5 separate regions of the Homo sapiens genome follow, and regions 1, 2, 3 and 4 are each linked to region 5. Evidence: fine-mapped expression QTL. A gene starts in region 5. Each other region holds a variant in brackets. All regions are shown on one strand. Distances are between the middles of the regions. Region 1 overlaps NLRP1 (NLR family pyrin domain containing 1). Region 2 has its middle 26 kb from the start of NLRP1. Region 3 holds the start of LOC101928044 (zinc finger CCHC domain-containing protein 9-like). Region 4 holds the start of DERL2 (derlin 2). Region 5 holds the start of NLRP1 (NLR family pyrin domain containing 1).

Region 1 (4,860 bases), 51 kb after region 5:
GCCGGGCATGGTGGCTCACGCCTGTAATCCCAGCACTTTGGGAGGCTGAGGCAGGTGGATCATGAGGTCAGGAGTTCAAGACCAGCCTGACCAACATGGTGAAACCCTGTCTCTACTAAAAATACAAAAATTAGCTGGGTGTGGTGACGCACGCCTGTAGTCTCAGCTACTTGGGAGTCTGAGGCAGGAGAATCACATGAACCCAGGAGACAGAGGTTGCAGTGAACCAGGATCACGCCATTGCACTCCAGCCTGGGTGACAGAGCAAGACAACATCTCAAAAAGAAAAAAAAAAGAACAAGAAAAAGTCAGTGGGTGGGTGAGCCAGCGAATCCCCTGGACCCAGCACAGCATGATACCAAATGGCCTCTAGTCCAGGAATCCTTCCATGAAGAACAGAGAAGGTTTGGAACAATGAAAGCGATGATCACAAGAGGGAGATAAAGACAGAGAGAGAGAGCGCCTGTGCCCTGGGAAAAAGACCATCCTCGCCATCACCGTCACCCACCACCCTCACCACCACCACCACACACACCCCTGACTTGAGGGGCAAGCCCCGGGGCCAGGAAAGTCCATCTTCCCTTCCCCGAGGAATCTGCTGCAGCTCCCACATTCTCCCAGTTGGGTGCATTTCCACCTGACCATGAAGCTCATCTGTCCCCAGGTTCCTGGCTGCTGTGGCTCACCTGAAATGGAAGGAAAACAGCTCCTAGGCTTAAGAGGAGCCATTTATTCATTGAACAAACATTCCCTGCAGACCCACTATGTGTCGGGCACTGTTTGGGGATCTAAGGACACAGCAGTGAACAAGAAAGACACAACCCAACCTCCAGGAGCTTAGTCCAGCAGGGAGACAGGCACAGGTTATCCCAGAAGTGTCTGCGCAAATGCACCTGGGGTCAGTGTGAGTGCACCTATGGGCCTATTTGACCTGGTCAAGAGGATCTGGGCTGAGGTCTGAAAGACAGGACAGGTTGGCTGGGCCCAAGAAGGGGTGGAGTCCAGGCAGAAGTAGAGGCTCTGAGAGAGAAAAGAGTTTAGCCTCCTGGAGGAATGGGAGGCCAGGCGTCAGGAGCAGCTACTCAAACTGTGGTCCGTGGACCAGCAGCATGAGCATCACCCTCACTGGGAGCTCGATAGAACTGCAAATTCTCAGGCCCCACTCCAGACCCACTGAATCAGAATCTCTGGGGTGGGGCCCAGGAATCTGTGTCTTTTTTTTTTTTGAGACAGAGTCTCGCTCTGTCACCCAGGCTGGAGTGCAATGGCATGATCTCGGCTCACTGTAACCTCTGCCTCCCAGGTTCAAACCATTCTTATGCCTCAGCCTCCAGAGTAGCTGGGACTACAGGTGCATGCCACCACACCCAGCTAATTTTTGTATTTTTAGTAGAGACGGGGTTTTACCATGTTGGCCAGGCTGGTCTCGAACTCCTGACCTTGTGATCTGCCCGCCTCAGCCTCCCAGAGTGCTGGGATTCCAGGCGTGAGCCACCGCGCCCGGCTGAATCTGTGTCTTAACAAGCCTTCCAGATGATTGTTAAGCGCACAGTTTGAGAACCGATGGACTAGAGGTCAGTGAGCCAGGAAAAAGTGGCCCAGGTGACATTGGAGGGTGACAGAGGCCCTGGCAAGCCCTTTTGGACTATGTTAAAAACTTTCCATTTTCCCCCAGAAGCAATGAAGCGACATTACAGGGTTGCAGCAGCCAAGTGATGGGTCAGGTTCCTATTTCAAGATTGGCTGCTGTGTAGAAAATGGGCGGCAGAGGGACCCGAGCAGAAGCAGGGAGACCTTTCAGAGGATGCTGCAGTGGTGCGGGCCACAGAGGCCAGGGCCTGGGACTCAGGTGGAGGTCATGGAGGTGGAGAGAAGACAATAGAAAGAAGAGCTATTTGAGAGGTGTTGTCAAGGTGATCAGCTCTTAGGGTGGGCGAGGAAGGAGTTGGGATGACACCCCAGCTCTAGCCTGGATGCATGGGTGGATGGAGGCTGCTCACAGAGACAGGGACCACAGAAGAACCACAGGATTGAGTTCAAATTCGGATGGAGTTTTTTTGTTTGTTTTGTTTTGTTTGAGACAGGGTCTGGCTCTGTCACCCAGACTGGAGTGCAGTGGCACAATCTCAGCTCACTGCAACCTCTGCCTCCTGGGCTCAAGTGATCCTCCCACTTCAGCCTTCCAAGTAGCTGGGATACAGGTGCATGCCACCATGCCCAGCTAATTTTTGTATTTTTGGCAGAGATGAGGTGGGGAGGTCTCACTATGTTACCCAAGCTGGTCTCGAACTCCTGAGCTTAAGCTATCCACCCATCCCGGCCTCCCAAAGTGCGAGGATTACAGACATGAGCCACTGCACCCGACCCGAGGAGGAGTTGAATTTTTAGTGGGAATGTCATGTGGACAGCCCTCGCTTCCTCCAAGATCTTAGGCAGAATGAACAATTCTTTGTCCAGGAAACCAAGTGT[G/A]ATGACCCCTACTGAGGGCCTGGATACGGGAGAGATGAGTAATAGCACATCCTCACTCAAGCGGCAGAGACTCGGATCAGGTAGTTTGAAGGGGCAAGGCTGGGAGCATCGTGACAGGGGTTGGGGGAGGTCAGCTGTGGGAGGTCATTCCCTCCATCCCTCTGCCCCTGATGTGGGACGGGGCAGGTTTCCTACCCAAGAGGGTGCTACCCCCACGAGAGAGCTCCCACTCCTAGGAACTGGCTGGATTTCCGTTACCCTCTCTCCGAGACCCACCGGCTGGTGCTTCCCCTCTCCAGAACGTCTATGGCATGTATCAAACCCTGAACCGGGGTCCGGCCTCTTCCATTCTTGGCTGCTAAGGCCTGGGAATCACATCTCCATCTTTGCCCTGCCATCTAAAAAAAAAAAAAAAAAAAAAAAAACAGAGTCTCACTCTAGTGTTCAGGCTGGAGTGCAGTGGCATGTTCATGGCTCACTGCAGCCTAAACCTTCTGAGCTCAAACAATCCTCCCACCTCCGCCTCCTGAGTAGAACTGGGACTGCAGATGCTCACCACCATGCCTGGCTGATATTTTTCTTTTTTCTGTAGAGAGGGCGGCTTCCCATGTTGCTCAGGCTAATCTCAAACTCCTGGACGTGAGCAAGATCTTCCCAATTGCTGAGATTGCAGGCAAGAGCCACGGTGCCTGGCCCCTTTCATCTTTTGAACCATGTTCTCTCTCAACCTGCCCACCTGGGCATGCTGGGGAGAGTGGCACTTCTATTCCAGTGGGGAAGGGGAGATGGGCGGAGGCTGGGCTGGAGGCACTGGAGTGGGGCTCCCCAGACAGCAGGCAGGCAGCCATGGAGCAGGAGCAGAAGCTGCAGACACACTCCCTGCCATGGTCCAGGCAGGCCAGCCTTGGGAAGGGCCCCTTACAGTGCAGCCATAGGGGCTAGGGGAGGCCAGGCGGGAGAATCTGGAGCTGACCGCTGCCTTGCTGTTTCAGAGGAAAGCTCCCCAGAGGTAGTACCGGTGGAACTCTTGTGCGTGCCTTCTCCTGCCTCTCAAGGGGACCTGCATACGAAGCCTTTGGGGACTGACGATGACTTCTGGGGCCCCACGGGGCCTGTGGCTACTGAGGTAGTTGACAAAGAAAAGAACTTGTACCGGTGAGTGAGGGGGCTCTGCTGGTCCCAGGCTGGCCTCCCGCACCCCACTGCCCATCCTGGGTCCCCACAGACAGTCAGCGCCACCCCCTACCCCCAACTCACACTCACCACTGGGTCCCCTCCTCTTGCCAAGACAACAGGCAGAGACAGGGCTGAGACACTGGGTGTCTGCTTTTCATATGGAAAAAGATGTTTTCTTATGAAACTTAAAATTTTCAAACATATACAAAAATAGTACAAGGAGCTTCCATGTACCCATCACCCAGCTTCAGCCACTGTTTTGCCAAATTCGTTTCAGCTGTTCACTTTCCCCCTCTTTGTTATTGTTACAGTATTTTAAATCCAAGACATCGGGTGATTTTACCCTTAAATATTTCATTACGCATCTCAAAAAACAAAAATAAAAACCTTTTCTTCCATAACATAACTACAATGCCAATATCACATCTGACAAAGCTGGCAGTAAGTCTTTCATTTCATCTACTCCCCAATCCATATTCAAATTGCTCAATTGTCTAAAACATGTTCTTATAGTTGGTGTTGTGGTTTGGTTGGGTTTGGTTTGATTTGGTTTTGAGACAGAGTCTTGCTCTGTCACTCAGGCTGGAGTGCAATGGCACAATCTTGGCTTACCTCAACCTCCACCTCCCAGGTTCAAGCGATTCTCCAGCCTCAGCCTCTCTAGTAGCTGGGACTACAGTCACATGCCACCACGTGTGAAAAATGAAAATTGTATTTTTAGTAGAGATGGGGGTTTCACCATATTGGACAGGCTGGTCTCGAACTCCTGACCTCAGACGATCCACCTTCCTCAGCCTCCCAAAGTGCTGGGATTACAGGCGTGAGCCACCGCGCCTGGCCAGTTGGTGTGTTCTTATCAGGATCCAAACAAGGTCCACTCATTTTATTTTCTTTGTTATATTTCTTAAATCTCACTTAACTCTCTTAATCTGTATGCTCCTGTTTTATTAACAGCCACTAATGAGCTAAGGACTGTACTAGTAGCTGGGGACCCTAAGATGAATATGGCAGCCCTGCCCTCCCAGGGCTTACAGTCGCACTAGTAGTAATTCTCTATAGTCATACTCATGATCTCTTATATAACATGTTACCACTCACCAAACACTGCCACAGACATCATCTCAACCAGGAGACAGCGTCACTCCCAGCTCACACCTACAGAAGCTGGGGCATCCCGGGACCCACTATTAACCCACCTGAGGAGCCTTGGGAAAA
Region 2 (4,860 bases), 26 kb before region 5:
CCAGCCCCAGGGAGAAAAGAGCAAATTAATGATTCCTGTCAAGGGCTCCTGTGCTACGTCTCTACCCAGGGCCTGGCTCAGGAAGGTGCCAGATAAATGGGTTAGGAGGGTTCTAATCTCAGGCCCAAAATGCCCAAGTGAATCCAGGGTGCACGCATGTGCACACAACACACATAACACACAGAGGTGTACATATGTGTTCTCAAGTGCCTTATGCATGCGCACCCATGTACACACATGCCTGCACATAGTCATACACATACATAGACACATCTGTCTACACACACACGAGCAAAGATGACATGTTCACTCACACAGGTGCACGTATGAATATTCACACACGTGTGTGAGTACCTGAACACGGATGGCTATACCACTCACTCACATAGATACTTACCTGTGGGTCTCAGGCATATCATGCTTGCTGAGTTCAATTACAGTGCTGTATGTGTTGTGGCCAACTAATAAAGGAATAGCTGAAGCTTGCAGCCGTCCTAGGAATCTGCTGGCTTCTTCACCCCTATTTCGCCACCAAAAGGGCTCCCCTTACCCAAGACATGTAGACTTTTATGGAGAGGTATACACTTAGAAAGTCATGTTGGGCCGGGCACAGTGGCTCACGCCTGTAATCCCAGTCCTTTGGAAGGCCAAGGCAGGCTGATCACCTGAGGTCAGGAGTTCGAGACCAGCCTGACCAGTGTGGTGAAACCCCCGTCTCTACTAAAAATACAAAAGTTAGCCAGGCTTAGTGGCACGTGCCTGTGATCCCAGCTACTCCAGAGGCTGAGGCAGGAGAATCACTTGAACCCGGGAGGCGGAAGCTGTAGTGAGCTGAGATCGCGCCACTGCACTCCAGCCTGGGCGACAGAGTGAGACTCTGTCTCAAAACAAAAGGACATGTTGTGCATACACATAAAGCACACATTTAGGAATACTCGTATTGGTTTCCTGTTGCTATTTGTAACCAACTACCACAAACTTCGTGACTCAAATTTGTCATCTTAGAGTTCTGGAGGTCAGAACTCCAAAATGAGACTACGAGGCTAAAATCACAGTGTCAGCAAGCCTGCGTTCCTTCTGAAAGCTCTAGGGGAGAATTTGTGTCCTTGCCTTTTCCAGCTTCTGAAGGCTGTGTGCATTCTTTGGCTCATGGCCCCTTCCTCTATCTTCAAGGCCAGCAGCATAGCAGTTCAAAGGTCTCTCTGATCCTCTCTCTTCTATTTATAACGACCCTTGTGATTACATTGAGCCCACCCAGATCATCCAGGATAATCTCCCTTTCTGAAGGTCAGATGATTAGCAACCTTAATTCCATCTGCAACCTTAATTCCTCTTTGTCATTTCCAGGGACTGGGATGGGGACATATTTGGAGGTCCATTATTCTGCCTACCACACTCACACACATTCAGAGTAAGGAGAACGGCAGCGTTTGCAGGATGAGAGGCAGAAAAGCTTGCTGGTAAGAGTATGGGTTTTAGGGTCAGATCCACCACTGAGGTTTTTTTGTTGTTGTTTGTTTGTTTTTTGTTTTTTGTTTTGAGATGGAGTCTCCCCCTGTCGCTTAGGCTGGAGTGCAATGGTGCCATCTCAGCTCACTGCAATCTCCCCTTCCCAGGTTCAAGCGATTCTCCTGCCTCAGCCTCCTGAGTAGCTGGGATCAGAGGCGCCACCACGCCCAGCTAATTTTTGTATTTTTAGTAGAGACAGCCTTTCACCATGTTGGCCAGGCTGGTCTCAAACTCCTGACCTCAGGCAATCTGCCCGCCTCAGCCTCCCACAGTGCTGGGATTGCAGGCGTGAGCCACCGAGCCCAGCCTCCACCACTGAGTTCTAACTCTGGCTCTGCCTCACATAGCTGTGTGACCTTGGGCCTGTTTCAGAACCTTTCTACACCTCAGTTTCAGCATCTGTGAAATGGAAATAATCACATCTACATTCTGGGATTATTATAAGGGTTAAATGAGATAATGCATGCAAAGTGACTGGTAGAGTACCCATCAGTCAGCTTTGGCTGCAAAACAAACAACAAAAATCTTACAGAGGAAACCCCTAAATTTTATCTCCCAAGGCTATATCGTAGTGGCCACACCTCCGGTTTGGTAAGACATT[G/A]TTTTGTTTTCCCACCGTGCAATTTCTGGCCTCTTTATAGTTCCTTAAAATTCTGCTTGCAAGCCGGCCACTTCCTCCTTGAGCTTAATGCAATTAGCAGTAGTCAGCACATACTTTCAACATCCTGCCCCAGATTTTTTTCATCCAATGTGACAAATGCTTCAGGCACATTCTTTACCTTCCAGACTATTCCAAGTGACAGCTTTGCCAAACGTTTTGCCATTACATAACATGAGTGCCATTTTACTAGCCTCCTACAACACTTCCCTCACCACCTGCCACCCAGTCTCAAAACCAGTGCCACGTATTTCAGGTTTTTGTTATGAAAGCATTCCACTTCAGATACCAATTACTGTATCGGTCAGCTATTGCTGCATGACAACCACAAAAGCTCAGTGTCATACAACAACAAGCACTTACTTTCTCACTCATTTGCCTGTGGATTGGAGATTCAGGGGGAAGGAATGAGTGATGAACAATAATTTCGTCTACCACACATAGCGAGGATATAGTGATTTTTCAATAAATGTCGGTCATTGTTAGCTATTCTGCCAACTCCTCATACAGTGACATTCCATAGTAAATATGCAGAATTGGCTTCTAATCCCAACTCCACCATTACCTCACCGTGAGGCTTAACGGAAGTCACTTAACCTCTCTAGGGCTTGGTTTCCTCATGTAAAAAGTGAGGACGCTGAGTGCAGTGGCTCACACCTGTAATTCCAGCATTTTGGGAGGCCGAGGGCGGTGGATTTCTTGAGCCCAGGAGTTCAAGACTAGCCTGGGAAACATAGTGAGACCTTGTCTCTATGAAAAATACAAAAATTAGCCAGGCGTGGTGGTGTGCACCTGTAGTCCCAGCTACTAGGGAGGCTGAGGCAGGAGGATTGCTTGAGCCCGGTTGCAGTAAGCTGAGATTGTGCCACTGCACTCCAGCCTTGGCGACAGAGCCAGACCCTGTCTCAAAAAATAAATAAATAAAACAGTGAGGACAGTGGAACTAGAATGTCAGATGTCTGTTGTAACTTTCACTTTTCCCCCTCCAAAGTCTGTGGTAGACTCACAAATAGATCAAGCCACCTTTTCCTCTGAGCCTGAACTTGAATTCGGAATTAATCTCCAGAAGGTACACCTTGTGGCCACCACTAAAATGATCTGAAGTTGGTTCATTAGATGAAATGATTGTTGTATCCTGAACTAGAATTGCCTCACTTAGAGCAAGATGTAACATTGGCTATCATCCAGCTCACCCTTCTTCTGAAGATGCAGGAATTTAGGTCCAGAGAAAGAAACAGCATGGCTGAGAGCACACAGCTAGTTAATGGAAGGCCATGCCAGAATCTGGGCTGGTATTCCTTTCACACCACACAGCTGGAAAGAGAGGGCGCTGGTCCTCAAATGCAGGTCTTCCAGTTCCAGGGATGTCCTCTCCCTCTGCTCTCTCATAGACACAGAACTGGGGGAAATGATTCCACTGGGTGGAGGGAGAGGGGGCTCTTCTTATTGCTTGGTAGGAGTAGAAAACCCTATGAAAGGCGCAGCCCTCTGTCAGCCCTCTCTACAAAACTCACCGTCTTCATTCACACTGCTTCACTTGACATCTTTTCTGTATAGTCTTTGAAACGATTATGTCAACATAGGAAAGGAAAGAGGTTAACACACTACAAAAAGGCCAGAGAGAAGAGCAGATGAGAGCTCATACTGGATGGAGATCACCTGGGTTTGCATCTTGACTCCAACACTTACCAGCTCTGTGATGTTGGGCAAGTCACAAGTCACTTATCTCTCCGTGCCTCAGTTTCCTCACCTGTAAAGTGGAAATACTAATAGTAATTACCTCAGAATGGTTATGAGGAGGCTGTTTAATATATATGTTAAATGTATGTAAAATATACATATAGGACTTAGAAGAGTCTCTGACACTTAGTAGAATTATACAAACATCAATTGTTACCTATTCCAGTTTTATTACCTTAGAGTTGTAGAAAATGCAGCAATTTGGAAAGCTCTGCTCTCTGCAGCCTTGCTCTCACCTGGCAGCATTCTGTCACCAACCAAATGAACCTGAAAGCCCCTCAGCCACCTCCAAGACATCACGACTTCACATACGTCATATGGACATAGGTGGTGAGAGATGCCCCTAAGGAAAAGTTCTTTTTCCATTTGATGAGAAACTAGAACTCAATTTTCAAGAAAGTCCGCATGCTTTTAGAGCTGCTTTTAGCAGAAAGGAGCCACTGAGTTGAAAGTTTCAGGGCCTTTTCTATTGGTGTGTGTGACTCATTTAGAGCAATGGTGATAAATGAGAGAAGGTCATGGGAGCTGGGGCAAGGCGGCAGGATTTGGTGGGGGGAATCGGAGCTCCATTGTTCGCAATGGATTGCTGGAGGAAATGCTGTTTGCTTGGGAGTCATTTGCAATTAACTCCACCTAGGATGAAAAATGGTGTGGGTATGAAAATGTTATACTACCCGTGTAATAATAAATCGTTAGCAGATGCTGTGGGCATGAAGATTGTTATTAGTGACTTTGGGGAGAAAAAGGTTTGTGGGAAATGTTTGATTCGAAGGGAGGACATGGTTCTTGCTCCAGCCCTGCCTGTTTGGTTGGCCACAGCACTGGGAGTTTATAGAATGGCTTGAAAAGGAGAAAGGCGTCATGTGCAGAGGGACCTGATCTGGCTCGTCCAAGCTGATGAGAGCTCTCTGTCCAGATGTGGAGGCCTGGAGCTCACCGTGCCCCTCCCGTAG
Region 3 (4,860 bases), 73 kb after region 5:
CTTATCCCCACCTCAGACATTACATACTCGTCCTTAATCTTAAGAGGTTGTAGAAGGACAGAGATCTATCTTCTGTCACTGCTTCATGCTGAACAGGGGCCATCATCCCTACCTGCTCTGGAGGCATAGAAATGTCTTCGTACCTGATCGAATGACTTATAGGGACTCCATCTTTTCTGCAGTGGCACAGGCTGGAACACTGGACTAATTATTTTTCTCTGAAACTGTTGTAGCCTGGAAGACATAAACTTGAACCGTCCGAACACCTGATGAATATAACAAATATTTTTAAAATCAAATAGCACCTAGTGATAATTCATAAAATACTTAAGCCCAGTTTTAAAGAAGAGATCAAAGCCAAGCATGGTGGCTCATGCATGTAATCTTAACACTTTGGGAGGCCAAGGCAGGAGGATCACTTGAGCTCAGGCTTTTGAGACTAGCCCGGGCAACATAGACTTTGTCTCTTTAAAAAAATAAGAAAGAAAAAAATAAGAGATCAGATGCCATTTGGAATCTAAGTGAATAGGCTGGAAAACTAGTCTTCTGTTGTCTGAAATACAAAGCCAAACAGATTTTTAATAAGAGAGATTTTTATGAGAACAGAAGAAAAAAAGGTTAATGCTGGACACAGTCTATCCAGGTATTAGACTCAAAAGCATCTTTAGTTATAAAGCAGGAAAGTGGTGGCAATCTGACACGCCTGTATCACAAGGTATAAGCTTTAGCTTGCAGGGCCTCAGGAGAAAGCTAGTAGTAATTTTACTGTATGCAGATCTCTAAGCTGGGGGTGACACAGGAGGTGGGCAGGACTGGCTTCACAAGATGCAGGTCACAAAGACTCCACTGATAAGATGCGGTAAAGAAGCTGGCCAAAGCCCACCAAAGCCAAGATGGCAATGAAAGGGACTCCTGGTTGTCCTCACTGCTCATTATATGCTAATTTTCACCCTCCTGTAGGACCAGCTCCAGCAGTTGTGGGACCCAGTGCAAAATGGAAACACAGGGCCCCTCGTTCAAAAATGATAAGAATGTCAAGACGGTGACAACAGAACATGAAATCAAGCGCCAGGCCCTGCTGAGCTCAGGGCTCTGTGTGACCGCACAGGTCACACACCCATGAGACTGGCCTTGTCTTTCGGGTCCTTCACGCCCCACCCACCCATCTCCTTTACCACATGCAGACCTCCACTCTCCACACAACCCTTCCTCCAAGAGGACAGTCAATGGGAAGTAAGAAGATTTAAAAGACAAGGGGCAAAGAAAAATGCAATGGTGTGTTTCCATTGTAGAAAACCTGGTCGTGGAATTGCGGATTGCCCTGCCGCCCTTGAAAATCAAGATATGGGCACTAGAAGATGTTACAAGTGTGGGTCCACAGATCACGAAATAACCAAGTGTAAGGCTAAAGTAGACCCGCCTCTTGGCGAATGTCCTTTTGCAGAATGTTTTGTCTGTGGAGAAATGGGGCACCTGTCTAGATCTTGTCCTGATAATCCCAAAGGACTCTATGCTGATGGTAGTGGTTGCCAACTTCATGGCTCTGTGGAACATTTAAAGAAAGATTGCCCTGAAAGTGAGAATTCAGATCGAATGGCCACAGTTGGTCTGTGGGCAAAGGGAATAAGTGCAGACTATGAAGACATTGTGGATGCACCAAAACCACAAAAACCCAAAACAAAAATACCTAAAGGTGTTAATTTTTGATAACAACTAGTACTGTCATTAGTTACCACCTCATTGTTACTTTCTAAACCAGGCCCACTTCACAAGTTACAGCTGGGCTCCCTTGTAGCCAGGACTATACTGTAAATATCAGTATGATCTGGGTGTGGTCAAAAACAATTTTCAACAGAGAGAAAGAAGAAAGAAGAGAGAGAAAGAAAAAGGAAGAGAAAGAGGAAGAGGAAGGAATGAAGAAAAAGAGGAAGGAAGGAAGGAAAGAGAGAAAGGAAAGAGAAAGAAAGAAGAAAGAGAAAGAGAAAGAAAAAGAAAAGAGAAAGGGAGGGAGGGAAAGAAGGAAGGACCTACGCGAGGAGGGGCTCCGCCAACCCTCTAAGCCCCGCAACCCCCGCATGCCCCGCCTCCTTCTGCAGACCTCCCCGTCCCTCATCCCAGCAAGTCCTCACGTTAGTTGCCGGAAGCCTAGGAAATGTATTCCTAAATCTGGAGTCGTCTCCATGGCAGCGAGCCCCGAAGTGGAGCCAGTCTTGGAGTAGGAGAAAGGCCAGACACAAACAAGTGTGTGGGG[A/G]TGGGGGAGACACACATGCATGTCCGCTTTGGATCCAGATTCTCTTTTTTTTTTTTAGACGGAGGCTCGCTCTGTCGCCCAGGCTGGAGTGCAGTGGCGCAATCTCAGCTCACTGCACTCACTGCAACCTCCACCTCCCGGGTTCAAACGATTCTCCTGCCTCAGCCTCCCGAGTAGCTGGGATTACAGGCGCCCACCACCACACCCGGATAAATTTTTGTATTTTTAGTAGAGACGGGGTTTCACCATGTTGGCCAGGCTGGTCTCGAACTCCTGGCATCAAGTGATCCGCCCGCCTCGGCCTCCTAAAGTGCTGGGATTACAAGTGTGAGCCACCGTGCCCGGCCTGGATCTGGATTCTAATAGCAACAGCTAGAATTCTGAGGGACAGGCAGTGAGCTGGGAATCAAATTCTTGGCTCTACCACCCATTAGATGTGTGATCTTGAAACAGGTTTTCAGATGTGTAAGAAGGGAATAGCAAAGCTTGCGTCAAACGGTTGTTTGACTAGGTGAGCTCATGAGTGGGAAGTTGTTCTGGGCGAGCTGGTACACAACACTAGGCAGACAGTAAATCTTAGCTTCTTTGAGCCTGAGGCTGTTGTAGGTGCCAGTGATAACAGAGGCCAGAGTATCTATTCTCAAGCAATTTATATTCTAGTGGCAAGGAGATACGAAATACGCACCCATGTCTGTAATCCCAGCACTTTGAGAGGCGAAGGCCTGAAGATCTATTGAGACCAGGAGTTTGAGACCAGGAGTTCAAGACCAGCCTGGGCAACATAGCAAGACCCCGTCTCTTAAAAAAAAAAATTTTTTTTCATTTTTTTGGCCAGATGCAGTGGCTCATGCCTGTAATCCTAGCACTTTGGGATGTCAAGGCGGACGGATCACCTGAGGTTAAGAGTTTAAGAGTTCAAGACCAGCCTGGCCAACATGGTGAAACTCTGTCTCTACAAAAATACAAAAATTAGCTGGGCATGATGGCAGGTGCCTGTAACCCCAGCTACTCGGGAGGCTGAGGCAGCAGAATTGCTTGTACGTGGGAGGCACAGGTTGCAGTGAGCCGAGATCACGCCATTGCCCTCCAGCCTGGGCAACAGAGCGAGCCTCTATCTCAAAAAAAAAAACCAGTTTTTTTAATTAGCCGGGCATCGTGGTACATGCCTGTATTCCCAGATACTCTGGAGGCTGAGGCAGAAGGGTCCCTTGAGCCTAGGCTCCAGTGAGCCATAATCATGCCACTGCACTCCAGCCCTGGAGACAGAGCAAGATCCTGTCTCTAAATAAAAATAATTGGCTGGGTGCTTACCTATAATCCTAGCACTTTGGGAGGCTGAGGCCAATGAATTGCTTGAGTCCAGGAGTTTGAGACCAGCCTGGGCAGCATAGTGAGACACTGTCTCTATTTAAAAAAAAAAAAGAAGAAGAAGAATAGAAGAAAGATCTTTTTGAATAGAGATAGATGGCAACTTCCTCAGAATGGATGTGACGGTTGAACAGCACATGGAGATGATGGGAATGAGAAGTGCAGGGCAGCAGGGATCATTCTCAACAATGGTGGAAAATTGGAGTCTTCCAGGATCACTGTGTTCAGACTAATCCACCCTACATGAAGTTTTCTTTCTCTTTAAAGTGGGCCACTTGGAACAGGGACCCCTGTCAAAGAATGCATTCAAGAATCATGGATTTGGCTGGGCGAGGTGACTCACGCCTGTAATCTCAACACTTTGGGAGGCTGAGACGGATGAATCACCTCAAGTCAGGAGTTTGAGACCGGCCTGGCCAACATAGCAAAACCCCATCTCTACTAAAAATACAAACAAAATGAGCTGGGCGTGCTGGCTCATGCAGTGAGCCGAGATCACGCCATTGTACTCCAGTGTAGGCAACAAGAGTGAGACTCCATCTCAGAAAAACGGAAGAATCATGGAATGCTTCCACCAGGCACTCTGATGGATGGTGGGAGCCCTGGGCTGAGCTTAATGCCTTTCCTGAAGGAGTCACTCTCCCAAGGAGTAGGATTTGCCAGGTGCTAGAATCCGATAGAGGCCATGAGCAATACTTGTCTCAATGGTGGGATAACTACAGATTTAAACTTTGAGCCATGCACACACTCTGGTCCAGGCCCCAGTCCTGGAGCAAGAAGGAAGCAGGGGAAGGAAGAAGGTCCTCTGGAACCTGTGATTACCTGTGTTGTGTCAGGTTGTATGATTGTGGGGACCCCATTGAGTGCTACTCACAGGTTAGCCCCAGGCAGGTAGGAATGAGAAGGAGGAGAATAGGAGAAGAAGAGGAAAGGCTAGACAGGAGCATGACTGTTGGAGAGAACTTGAAGGGAAGTCTAGCAGTAGTATGGACGCTGTGCTATTGGTCAGGAGTCCTGCTGTGTTCTTGGTTTCCTAGCAACTGCTGTTAAGCAGGTAGTTGCTAGGCAATGCGGGGCCATCTAGGCGGTTAGGTAAGGACCTTTGTCTGCGTGGGCATGAATCAGACCATCACAGAGTATTGTTAATCCTGAAAATGGCCACTGGGTCCATTACTTAGATTTTTTTGGCCTTGTTGCACAGAAACTAATATAACCATGGTGCACAAGTTCTGGTCAAATGA
Region 4 (4,809 bases), 98 kb after region 5:
GCTTAGTACATAATTCAGTCTTGTACTTCTCCTGTAACTGTTCAATTTCTTTCTGGAGATGCTGAAAATCTTCCTCACTATAAGGTGTCTCCTTACATTTATCTTCAGGAAGCAAGATGTTTGAGGGAATACGTAAAATCAGCTGCAAAAACAGTTGCTCCATTTTGCTAAAAAGGTTATCAAAATGTCCTTTCATGAAGCAAAGAAACTTCTCTGTGCATTTGCGAATCTGCACTGGGCTAATGTCACAGTCTGGGATGCCATCCAGCTTCTTCAGAATAACCTGTTCAACGGCCTGCATCACTTCAAATAGGTAGTCTTGAAATGCAATGTAGATCCGAAGCATGCACGTTTGTGGCGTGAAGCCAAAGAACTGGGCCTCGTAGGTCATTGGATCCACAGACATCTTGGCTTATTTTGCTATGTTGTTTTCAGTCGTGAAAAACCTGCAAATGTAAAAAGGAAATAATTCATTTGGAAAAAAAAAATCTTCTGCAGGAAGTAACCAATCACATTACAGATAGCAAACAAAGAAGCAAATCAATAAAAAATAAGGAGTTTGTGTTCCTTTATACCTGATGCCACTCCCACAACAGGATATAAACTCTTTGCCTCTCTGAGGCTCCTTCCATCAGCCTATACCCTCCCTTTTCCCCTCCTCGTTGTTCACTTCCCTTACCTGTGACTTTGGCACAGATCAGTCTTCTGAATTATCATCCTAGACAACTTTGAAGTCTAGACAGATGACTTAACCAATGCCCTAGAGACTCAGTTTCTTGAGCTTCAATGACCTATAGCTCCACCTTTTAGCCACCTGGCTCTTGATATTTGTAACTACTCTTCCAAACTGCTTCTACTTTTTGACTACTGCCTCCTACACAATTCTTCCAATTCTTACCCATATACTCATATTATACCCTAATCTTCAAGATTTACAGCCCCTCCACCCTCTCTTTCTGTTCTCAGCCTCTGCCACTTCTCTTCTTTCCTTATTCATTTTAGGCCTCATGATCTATCATTTTGATCACTCCGTTGCCAATGTCCTCAATTTGCTTGTCCTCCAGCCAAGCCATCTGAAAAAAACCCAATTAGAAGATGAGTAAGTCCCTTGTCAGCTTTATAACCCTGACATGTTTTTTCAAGGGTCTGCGAGTAATTCCTCTCAAATATAAACATCTAGGAAAATAAAACCCCTATCTCCTTGTCATTGTGGGAATTCAACCTAGGCATCTTTTTCTGAGATGAAATGATATTGCTTGTCATAGAAATAAGAGAAATTTTATTATTCCTTCAGATAAAGGCAATTAGCTAAAACAAACTGCTACTTCAATTATCAGGTGAATTTAGGACGCACTTTATGAAATAATTTGCAATAAGCAGTACAGTCAAATCTTATGGGAAGATAAGATGCAGCCAATCTTAAGAATTTATGTTTGTAGGCTGAGCACGATAGCTCATGCCTGTAATCTCAGCACTTTAGGAGGCCGGATGGACGAATCACCTGAGGTCAGGAGTTCGAGACCAGCCTGGCCAACATGGCGAAACCCTATCTCTCCTAGAAATACAAAAATTACCCAGGCGTGATGGTGGATACTTGCAATCCCAGCTACTCGGGAGGCTGAGGCAGGAGAATCACTGGAACCCGAGAGGCGAAGGTTGCGGTGAGCCGAGATTGTGCCACTGCACCCCAGCCTGGGCAACAGAGCGAGACTCTGTCTCAAAAAATAAAATAAAATAAAAATTTACGTTTGTAATGGTTAAATATGGAGTGGTTATAACTGTTTGGCTGTATATGTAAGGTAGGATTTCTTTCTGTTTTTCTTTTTTTCTTTTGAGACATGTTGTCGCTCTGTCGCCCAGGCTGGAATGCAGTGGCACGATCACAGATCACTGCAGCCTCAACCTCCCGCGCCCAAGCAATCCTCCCACCTCAGTCTCCCAAGTAGCCGGGACAACAGGTGCAGGCCACCATGCCTGGCTAATTTTCTTGTTGTTGTTGTTGTTTGAGACAAAGTGTCACTCTTTCGCCCAGGCTGGAGTACAGTGGTATGATCTCGGCTCGCTACAACCTCTGCCTCCTAAGTTCAAGTGATCCTCTTAGCTCAGCCTCCCAAGTAGCTGGGATTACAGGTGGGCGCCATCTCAAACAACAACAAAAAAATACACTTCCTTGATTAACTCCTTTCTTCGAATTCCCATTAGGACCTCTCTTCGGGCACTGACTGATGAACTTCTACCGCCTCATCTTCTCTGCTAGACTTAGAGTTCCTGAGAGCAGAATAAATG[C/T]GGCTTGATCAGTATTTGCCGATTCAACGCAGAGGTGCCCAGGTCATCTCGGCGAGTTGAGCTGTCTAAGACCCCGCGATCGCGCAGGACAGGACCCAGAAGCCAGAGCGCAGGAACTGCTTCCGGCCGGCTCCCGGCTTCCGTCGGGCCCCGCGCCCGCGCTGCATGCTGGGATCTTCAGGTCGGAGGCCGGGGTGAGGCCGACCCACAGGCCGCCTTGCTCCCTCGCGAAGACGCTTATGCCAGTCTCGCCCGTCCCCGCTCCTCCTCAGAGAAAATGCTGCCCCGCAGCACTTACCGGAGCGACCATGAGGGTGACGATTTGAAGCACACACAGGCTTCCCGCCACCTCCTTTAAACCGCCGCTGGCTTGCCAGGGACAGACGGCGCGGTTGGCTCCCCAAAATTCCGACTGATACGCGCCTCGGCGAGCGAAAGCAAACGCGGGATACTCTCGCGTTCCTGATTGGCTGGTTGTGGACACCTCAATTATGACAGAAAGGGGCCGGGCGGGAAAGTTAGCTGTGGCCGGCGGGGATTGGCAGAAGGAACCTGTACTTACTCGTTTTTCCCGGACGTTGGCTGGTGGAGAAGAGAGGGTGGGGAGATGGGGCGCTGGGGGGGGGCGGTGGCGACGCAACTCGTGATTGGCGGATGTGCGTTCCTTAGGTCTCTACGGATTGCGGTTGCTTGGCGTTGATTGGGCAGTCGCGGGAAAACTAAAGTGGGCGGGGGGCCTTTGGGCCCGCCCCGCCGCCGGGGCCTGCTGGCGGAAGGGGAAATGGGGTGGGTGGGGGGTGGGGCAGGCGACGGTGGGGAAGATGGCGTACCAGAGCTTGCGGCTGGAGTACCTGCAGATCCCACCGGTCAGCCGCGCCTACACCACTGCCTGCGTCCTCACCACCGCCGCCGTGGTGAGCAGCTGCAGTGCCACCTTCTCATTATCTGGGCTGGATATGACTGGGTCTTCAGGAAACTGGGGTTTGGGCCTCGGGGAGGCCCAGAGGGGCTGGTCCCGGGGATGGGTGGAGGCGTACAGGGATTACTCTGGGGTTCGAGTTGGCGCCAAGAATGCTTATCCAGTGACGCGAGAAGGGAGTGCTGCTTCATGGGGGGTCAGGTCAGTTTCTAAGAGATGAGCGCCGGACCTATAGCGGGTTAGGGTTGCGGGAGCCTCCCACCCAAGAAATGTGTCCGAGAGCTCTGCCAATGGCCAGGTGGTACCATGGTGACTAGTGAGAGGAAGGTCCGTTTAGTGAAGAAACAGGAATGGGGAAAGCAAGCTGGAAACTGTCGAGAGGGGAATGGCTTATAATAAAAAGGGTCTCTGGATCTAAATAAGGGGCTAGCTGGAGGTACCCAGCCCTAACGGTGGCAGGGTCTCCAGTCTCCGTTATTTCAAGTGAGTTTTGTTGTTTCATACAGCTGTTTCAGGTGGTGCCCATGTGGTGGGTAGATTCATAGCAGCTGTTTTTATTTGTCCTGTGTCTAAAATATCACCACCTGTCTGCCTCATTTCTTCATGTCAGCCTCAACTATTGCAACATAAAACAGACTTTTTTGTGTTAGGTATTGAGGATACAAAGAATTCTACCAATCCTAGAGAATTCTTTACCAACCTCTTCCTCTGGCCTAAGAAGAAAGGCTTAAAGGAAATCACGTCTAAGTGACCGAGAGTTGGAAATTGCTAGACCTACTAATTCTTTGTTGTAAATGATGAAATTTTGTTTCTTGATTTGCTTTAAGAAGCTCTTTTTCTATTTCAGCAGTTGGAATTGATCACACCTTTTCAGTTGTACTTCAATCCTGAATTAATCTTTAAACACTTTCAAGTAAGTGGTTCATCACAATAGTGATTAATGCTTCAGTTTCTTCTTTTTCTTACTGTTTAGTAGCAAATCCTGTTATACACTATCCTAAAAAAGAACCCAGTGGGGACCTTTGATTATAAGTTGCCTTGTCAGGATATAAAGCAGTGATTCTGCAGCCTGGTTGGACTTGAGAATCCCTTAGGGAACTTTGAAGAGATTCTCAAGCTCCTCAACAAGTACCAAATCAGAATTTGCAAGGGTAGGAATTAAAATCTGTGTTTTATTTTTAAAGTTCCCTGCATCGTTTTGATGTGTCCAGTTCCTGTATTTGGAAATCACTGGTTTAGACTTAACGTTGTCCTATGAGAGGAGGCTGACTAGCTAGCTGCTTAGGGGTTGTCTCACAGGGATGGCCTTATTTTGTCCATTCAGCACCTAGGCACACCCACCACCTTGGTGTTATCACCATGGTCCAGAAACTCAATTCTGTTAGTGCTTTTAAATTGTGATCTGTCTTCCAGGGATCAGATCATACTAACCAAATTCCAAACATCTAAAGCTATATGGTGGTTTATTAGATTACAATGGGAGATGGTCCTTTCCAGTGATTAAAATGCCAAAAGAGGCTGGGCACAGTGGCTCACGCCTGTAATCCCAGCACTTTGGGAGGCTGAGGCAGGCAGATCACCTGAGGTCAGGAGTTCAAGACCAG
Region 5 (4,860 bases):
CTAAGAGGATCCAGTGAGGGAGGGGGATAGGGTAGGATATAATGCCGGAGAGATATCAGGGGCTAGATCATGCAGCCCCCGGGAACCATTGGGAGGGCTCTGGGAGATTTGGGGAGTTGTTGTTGTTGTTGTTGTTGTTTGGTTTGGTTTGGTTTGAGACTGTGTTTTGCTCTTGTCGCCCAGGCTGGAGTGCAATGGTGCAATCTCGGCTCACTGCAATCTCTGCCTCCCAGGTTCAAGCAGTTCTCCTGCCTCAGCCTCCTGAAGGAATACGGCGTGCGCCACCACACCCGGATAATTTTTTTTGTATTATAATTATTAGAGATGGGATTTCACCATGTTAGCCAGGCTGGTCTTGAACTCCTGGCCTCAGGTGATCTGCCCGCCTCAGCCTCCCAAAGTGCTGAGATTACAGGCATGAGCCACTGTACCTGGCCGGATTTGGGAAGTTTTTTAATATTATGTCATAGGGACAGGGTCTTGCCATGTTTCCCAGACTGGTCTTGAACTCCTGGACTCAAGCGATCCTCCCACCTCAGCCTCCCAAAGTGCTGGGATTACAGGCACGAGTCACCACACCTTTGGTTGGACTTTGGTTTTTACTCAGAGTGAGATGGAGTATGGGAAAGTTTTGAGCTGAGAAGTGACCTGACCTAATTTATGCTTTAAGTGGATAATTCTGGCTTCTAGACTGAGAGTAGACAGTAAAGGGGAAGCATCAGCATGGGTGGAGAACATGTGGAAGGCTAGCACAGTGATCCCAGTAAGAGACGACTGAAGGCTGGACCAGCAGCCCCAGTGGGCGTGGTGGGAAGGGTCAGGTTTCTGATCTATTTAACAGGTTGAGTGGATCTCCAGCGGCCAGTGATTTAATGAATTATGCCTGTGAAGTGAAACCTCCGAGAAAACCCCACAGTCTTGTTTGTTTGGGGTTTGGAGAGCTTCCAGGTTAGTGAAGCAGGGAGGGGCAGGGAGAGTAGGGTGCCCGGGAGGGCAAGGAAGCGCTGTGCCCCTCCCCCACCCACACCTTGACCTCGGCATCTCTTCCGTTGGGCTATTCCTGAGTCGTATCCTCCATCATGAACCGATAATAATAAATAAAGTGCTTTTCTCAGTCCTGTGAGTCATTTCAGCAAATTATTGAACCTGCCGGGGACTGTGGGAACCCTTGAATTTGTCACCAAGTCAGACAGAGATGCCAGTGGTCTGGGCACCCCATTTGCAACTGGCATCTGATATGAGGCCAGCTCTTCACTGAAACCCTAAACCTGTGAGGTTTGATGCCAACTCCAGGCAGTCAGTGTCAGAATTGCACTGTAGGACACCAGTTGGTGTCTAGAGAGTTGGTGCCAGAACTGGCTGGTGTGAGGAGGAAAAAAAGCCCACACAGCCCTCCTCCAGGCCATTCCTCCCGCTACATGGAGTCTCACGGTCCTTCACGGAGTGCTCAGAGCCTCCCGATCATCCCACTTTTAGCACAGCACTTTTCCACTTCTGGTCAATCTGATATTAGAATGTCCTACAATGTGCTTATTAGCCATTTTTTAAAACTAACATTTATAAAATTTATTTAGGCCAGGCACGGAGGCTCACACCTGTAATCCCAACATTTCGGGAGGCCGAAGTGGGCGGATCACCTCGGATCAGACTGGCTAACATGGTGAAACCCCATCTCTACTAAAAATACAAAACAATTAGCCAGGCGTGGTGGTGAGTGACTGTAATCCCAACTGCCCAGGAAGCTGGGCTGATGCAGGAGAATCGCTGGAACCCAGGAGGTGGAGGGAGCTTGCAGTGAGCCGAGATCTTGCCACTGCACTCCAGCCTGGGAAAGAGAGAGAGACTCTAAGACCTTTTGCTGAATTGAAGCCTCTTGGTAAACCTATGATGTCCCATTTAATAGATGGGCAAACTGAGGCTCAAAGAAATAAATCAGGCACATAAGGAGTCCTTGTCCAAGCAAGCCGTGGGTTGAAGCCTGGGCTCTGCCAGTCCAAGTGAAACCAAAGCATCTCCAGAAATTCCTGGTGGTGTGTTACATCAGCAAATGAGTAGGCAATGTCATTCCTCAACCTGAAGTCATTGGCATCTTGCAGATTCCACGAAAGAGGAAGTCTGCCCCTGGCTCCCCGAGGCCTGCTTGCAGGAATGAGGAAGGGGCTGTTCTGCTTTCAGGTGGAAATGTTCACCAGCTAAGTGCTGGGCTGCCCAGAAGGCAAACAGCCCCCTGGGCCTGGGACACATGCTTTAGTGCCCCTGGTAGCATGGCAGGACATGCAGTGCAACTCAAGAAGCTCCCAAAACCATGAGAGGCTGGGAAAAATGCTCCCTGGCCCAGTTCTAATGTTTCCCAATAAGGAGCTGCCCGGGCAGACACAGGGGGCCCCACCCATCCTGAGAGGCTGGGCCTGGGCTGCAGACACAACTGCTCGGAGAGTCTGCATCCTGGCTCTGCAGACAGGCTCTAGATGATGGGCTGGCGGAGTGCCCATGTGGAGGTGCACACACCGTGTTTAGTATGGGCCTGTACCTGCTGCAGCGTCAGCTGGTCTGGGCCTGTGCTCCTGGTCCGCCTATAGATGCCATGTGGCCCATCTGAATCTGTGACTCTGAGTCTGGCCTACCCAGGCCTGGTTTGATCCTACCCCCTGGCCACGCCCCTTGTGGGTTTCCTCTGGGTGACGTTTCCTTCCTGCTCTTGTTGACTAGGCGCTGTTCTTGCTGGCTGGTGCCCCAGGGCCTGGAGAGGTCTGAAGAAACCTGGGAGCCAGCAGCCCGGGGCTCCACTCTGGGTTCTGAAAGCCCATTCCCTGCTCTGCGGCTCCTCCCACCCCACCTCTTCTCAGCCTTGCAGCTCAAGGGTTGATCTCAGGAGTCCAGGACCCAGGAGAGGGAAGAATCTGAGGAACACAGAACAGTGAGCGTTGCCCACACCCCATCTCCCGTCACCACATCTCCCCTCACCCTCACCCTCCCTGCCTGGCCCTGGACCCCATCCCAGGACCTCCCTATCAGCTGACTTCTTCCAGTGTCTTGCAGGCCCCTCTGGGCTCCTCCCTCCCCTGGCTTTTCCTACCACTCCCCCTCTATCGGCGTCTATCTGTAGGTGCCCTGGGATTTATAAAACTGGGTTCCGAATGCTGAATAAGAGACGGTAAGAGCCAAGGCAAAGGACAGCACTGTTCTCTGCCTGCCTGATACCCTCACCACCTGGGAACATCCCCCAGACACCCTCTTAACTCCGGGACAGAGATGGCTGGCGGAGCCTGGGGCCGCCTGGCCTGTTACTTGGAGTTCCTGAAGAAGGAGGAGCTGAAGGAGTTCCAGCTTCTGCTCGCCAATAAAGCGCACTCCAGGAGCTCTTCGGGTGAGACACCCGCTCAGCCAGAGAAGACGAGTGGCATGGAGGTGGCCTCGTACCTGGTGGCTCAGTATGGGGAGCAGCGGGCCTGGGACCTAGCCCTCCATACCTGGGAGCAGATGGGGCTGAGGTCACTGTGCGCCCAAGCCCAGGAAGGGGCAGGTGAGTGGACAGAGGACCCCACTGCCCGCGGGACATCCCCTGGCCCTCATGCCTGCCCTGCCCTCTTGGGACCCCACCACTGAGCCCTCCCTGCCAGGCCTTCCTCTGAGCAGTGACATGGAACTGCCCTCTCAAAGGGGGATCCAGGCCCCAGACTATGCTGGAGCCAGGAGGCTTGCTGGGGGGGCCCTTGCTGCACCTCAGAGCCCCACACCCTCTTCTATTCAAGTGCATTCCCGGTACTCGCCTGGCATTGTAGTTATGAGCACGGACTTGGGAGTCAGGCACTATCACCAGTCCTGGCACTATCACCCTGGGCCAATCACTTCACTGCTCTCTGCCTATTTCTCTGTCTGCAAAATGGGAGAGTGAGAGCCCGCCTCCCTGGGCTGTGTGAGGGTTAAAAGAGATCATCCAGGTTAAACATTTAGCACAGAGTCTGATATACAGTAAGTGCTCAATAAATAAGATCTCCCATTGCTGTTGTTGCTGCTGCTGCTGCTGCTGTTATTATTACTATTAGCCACCCTGGGTTGCAGATGCCGTTGGCCCAATAAAGCACAGCTGAGGCTCAGTAGGAGTAGTGATTTACACAGGGAGATAGTCAGGACCAAGACAGATATGCAAATTTCCTGATCCTAGATGAGGATTTTTTGCCTAGCAGTATCTATAAGAACATCATTCTTCAGACAAGCCTCTAGAGGAAGTTGTAGAGGGCTGCAGCGGGTTCACTGGTGTATCCTGACCTCTCTTGGTTGAGAGAGGAGACCAGCTCAGTTCCCTGGCACCTTGCCCCTGCCCCTCTGATGTGTCTCCAACCTCTTTGTCTCTTTCCTGTAGGCCACTCTCCCTCATTCCCCTACAGCCCAAGTGAACCCCACCTGGGGTCTCCCAGCCAACCCACCTCCACCGCAGTGCTAATGCCCTGGATCCATGAATTGCCGGCGGGGTGCACCCAGGGCTCAGAGAGAAGGGTTTTGAGACAGCTGCCTGACACATCTGGACGCCGCTGGAGAGGTGAGGCTTGCTGAGGCAGGCTGACAGCCCTGGGTGGAGCTGTGAATCAGCTGGTGGGCCCCACCCAGAGGATCATGTCTGTGCATGGGGACCTGACATGGGGGACAGCAGAGGAAGGATAGGGGAGCCAGGATGGGCTGTGAGAGGTAGGCCTGAAATTGATCTTTCAGGGACCTTCCGGTGCTGAGATTGCATCCCTCCCCATGTGGCAGATGGGGAAGCTGAGACCCATGTGGGTCAGGCAATGAGTCTTCCCCAACTGGGTGCCCAACTCGTGACATGGTCCTTGCCCGAGAACTCAGCTCATAATATTGATGGGC

Evidence for each region. PIP is the estimated chance that this variant, and not a neighbour inherited with it, causes the effect.
Region 1: its variant is fine-mapped to the expression of NLRP1 in whole blood (INTERVAL, PIP above 0.99).
Region 2: its variant is fine-mapped to the expression of NLRP1 in whole blood (TOPMed, PIP above 0.99).
Region 3: its variant is fine-mapped to the expression of NLRP1 in sigmoid colon (GTEx, PIP above 0.99).
Region 4: its variant is fine-mapped to the expression of NLRP1 in whole blood (INTERVAL, PIP above 0.99).

Annotation. Positions count from the first base shown.
Region 1 is chr17:5,531,586-5,536,445 of GRCh38, reverse strand. It overlaps NLRP1 (NLR family pyrin domain containing 1), which reads left to right. Exons shown (of 17, transcript NM_033004.4): 9 at 2,458-2,549; 10 at 3,062-3,142; 11 at 3,462-3,624. LOC124903902 (a long non-coding RNA gene) reads right to left here. Exons shown (of 4, transcript XR_007065590.1): 2 at 2,746-2,867. Among named protein-coding and RNA genes, the nearest start is that of MIS12, 47 kb to the right of the region's middle. The variant G/A (reference allele first, on the strand shown) is at 2,470.
Region 2 is chr17:5,608,521-5,613,380 of GRCh38, reverse strand. No RefSeq gene overlaps it. Among named protein-coding and RNA genes, the nearest start is that of NLRP1, 26 kb to the right of the region's middle. The variant G/A (reference allele first, on the strand shown) is at 2,111.
Region 3 is chr17:5,508,887-5,513,746 of GRCh38, reverse strand. LOC101928044 (zinc finger CCHC domain-containing protein 9-like) reads left to right here and starts at 1,021. Exons shown (of 1, transcript XM_047437231.1): 1 at 1,021-1,795. The coding sequence starts at 1,120. The coding sequence ends at 1,707. It also overlaps a transcript of NLRP1 not described here. The variant A/G (reference allele first, on the strand shown) is at 2,252.
Region 4 is chr17:5,484,460-5,489,268 of GRCh38, reverse strand. It overlaps DERL2 (derlin 2), which reads left to right and starts at 3,091. Exons shown (of 7, transcript NM_016041.5): 1 at 3,091-3,200; 2 at 4,053-4,118. The coding sequence starts at 3,108. MIS12 (MIS12 kinetochore complex component) reads right to left here and starts at 2,703. Exons shown (of 3, transcript NM_001258217.2): 1 at 2,585-2,703; 2 at 680-1,073; 3 at 1-446. The coding sequence starts at 406. RefSeq lists enhancers at 2,084-2,193, 2,434-2,533, 3,154-3,213, 3,254-3,433 and silencers at 2,707-2,874, 2,824-2,983. The variant C/T (reference allele first, on the strand shown) is at 2,287.
Region 5 is chr17:5,582,350-5,587,209 of GRCh38, reverse strand. NLRP1 (NLR family pyrin domain containing 1) reads left to right here and starts at 2,701. Exons shown (of 17, transcript NM_033004.4): 1 at 2,701-3,523; 2 at 4,364-4,540. The coding sequence starts at 3,253. RefSeq lists enhancers at 2,313-2,612, 2,633-2,892, 2,164-3,363.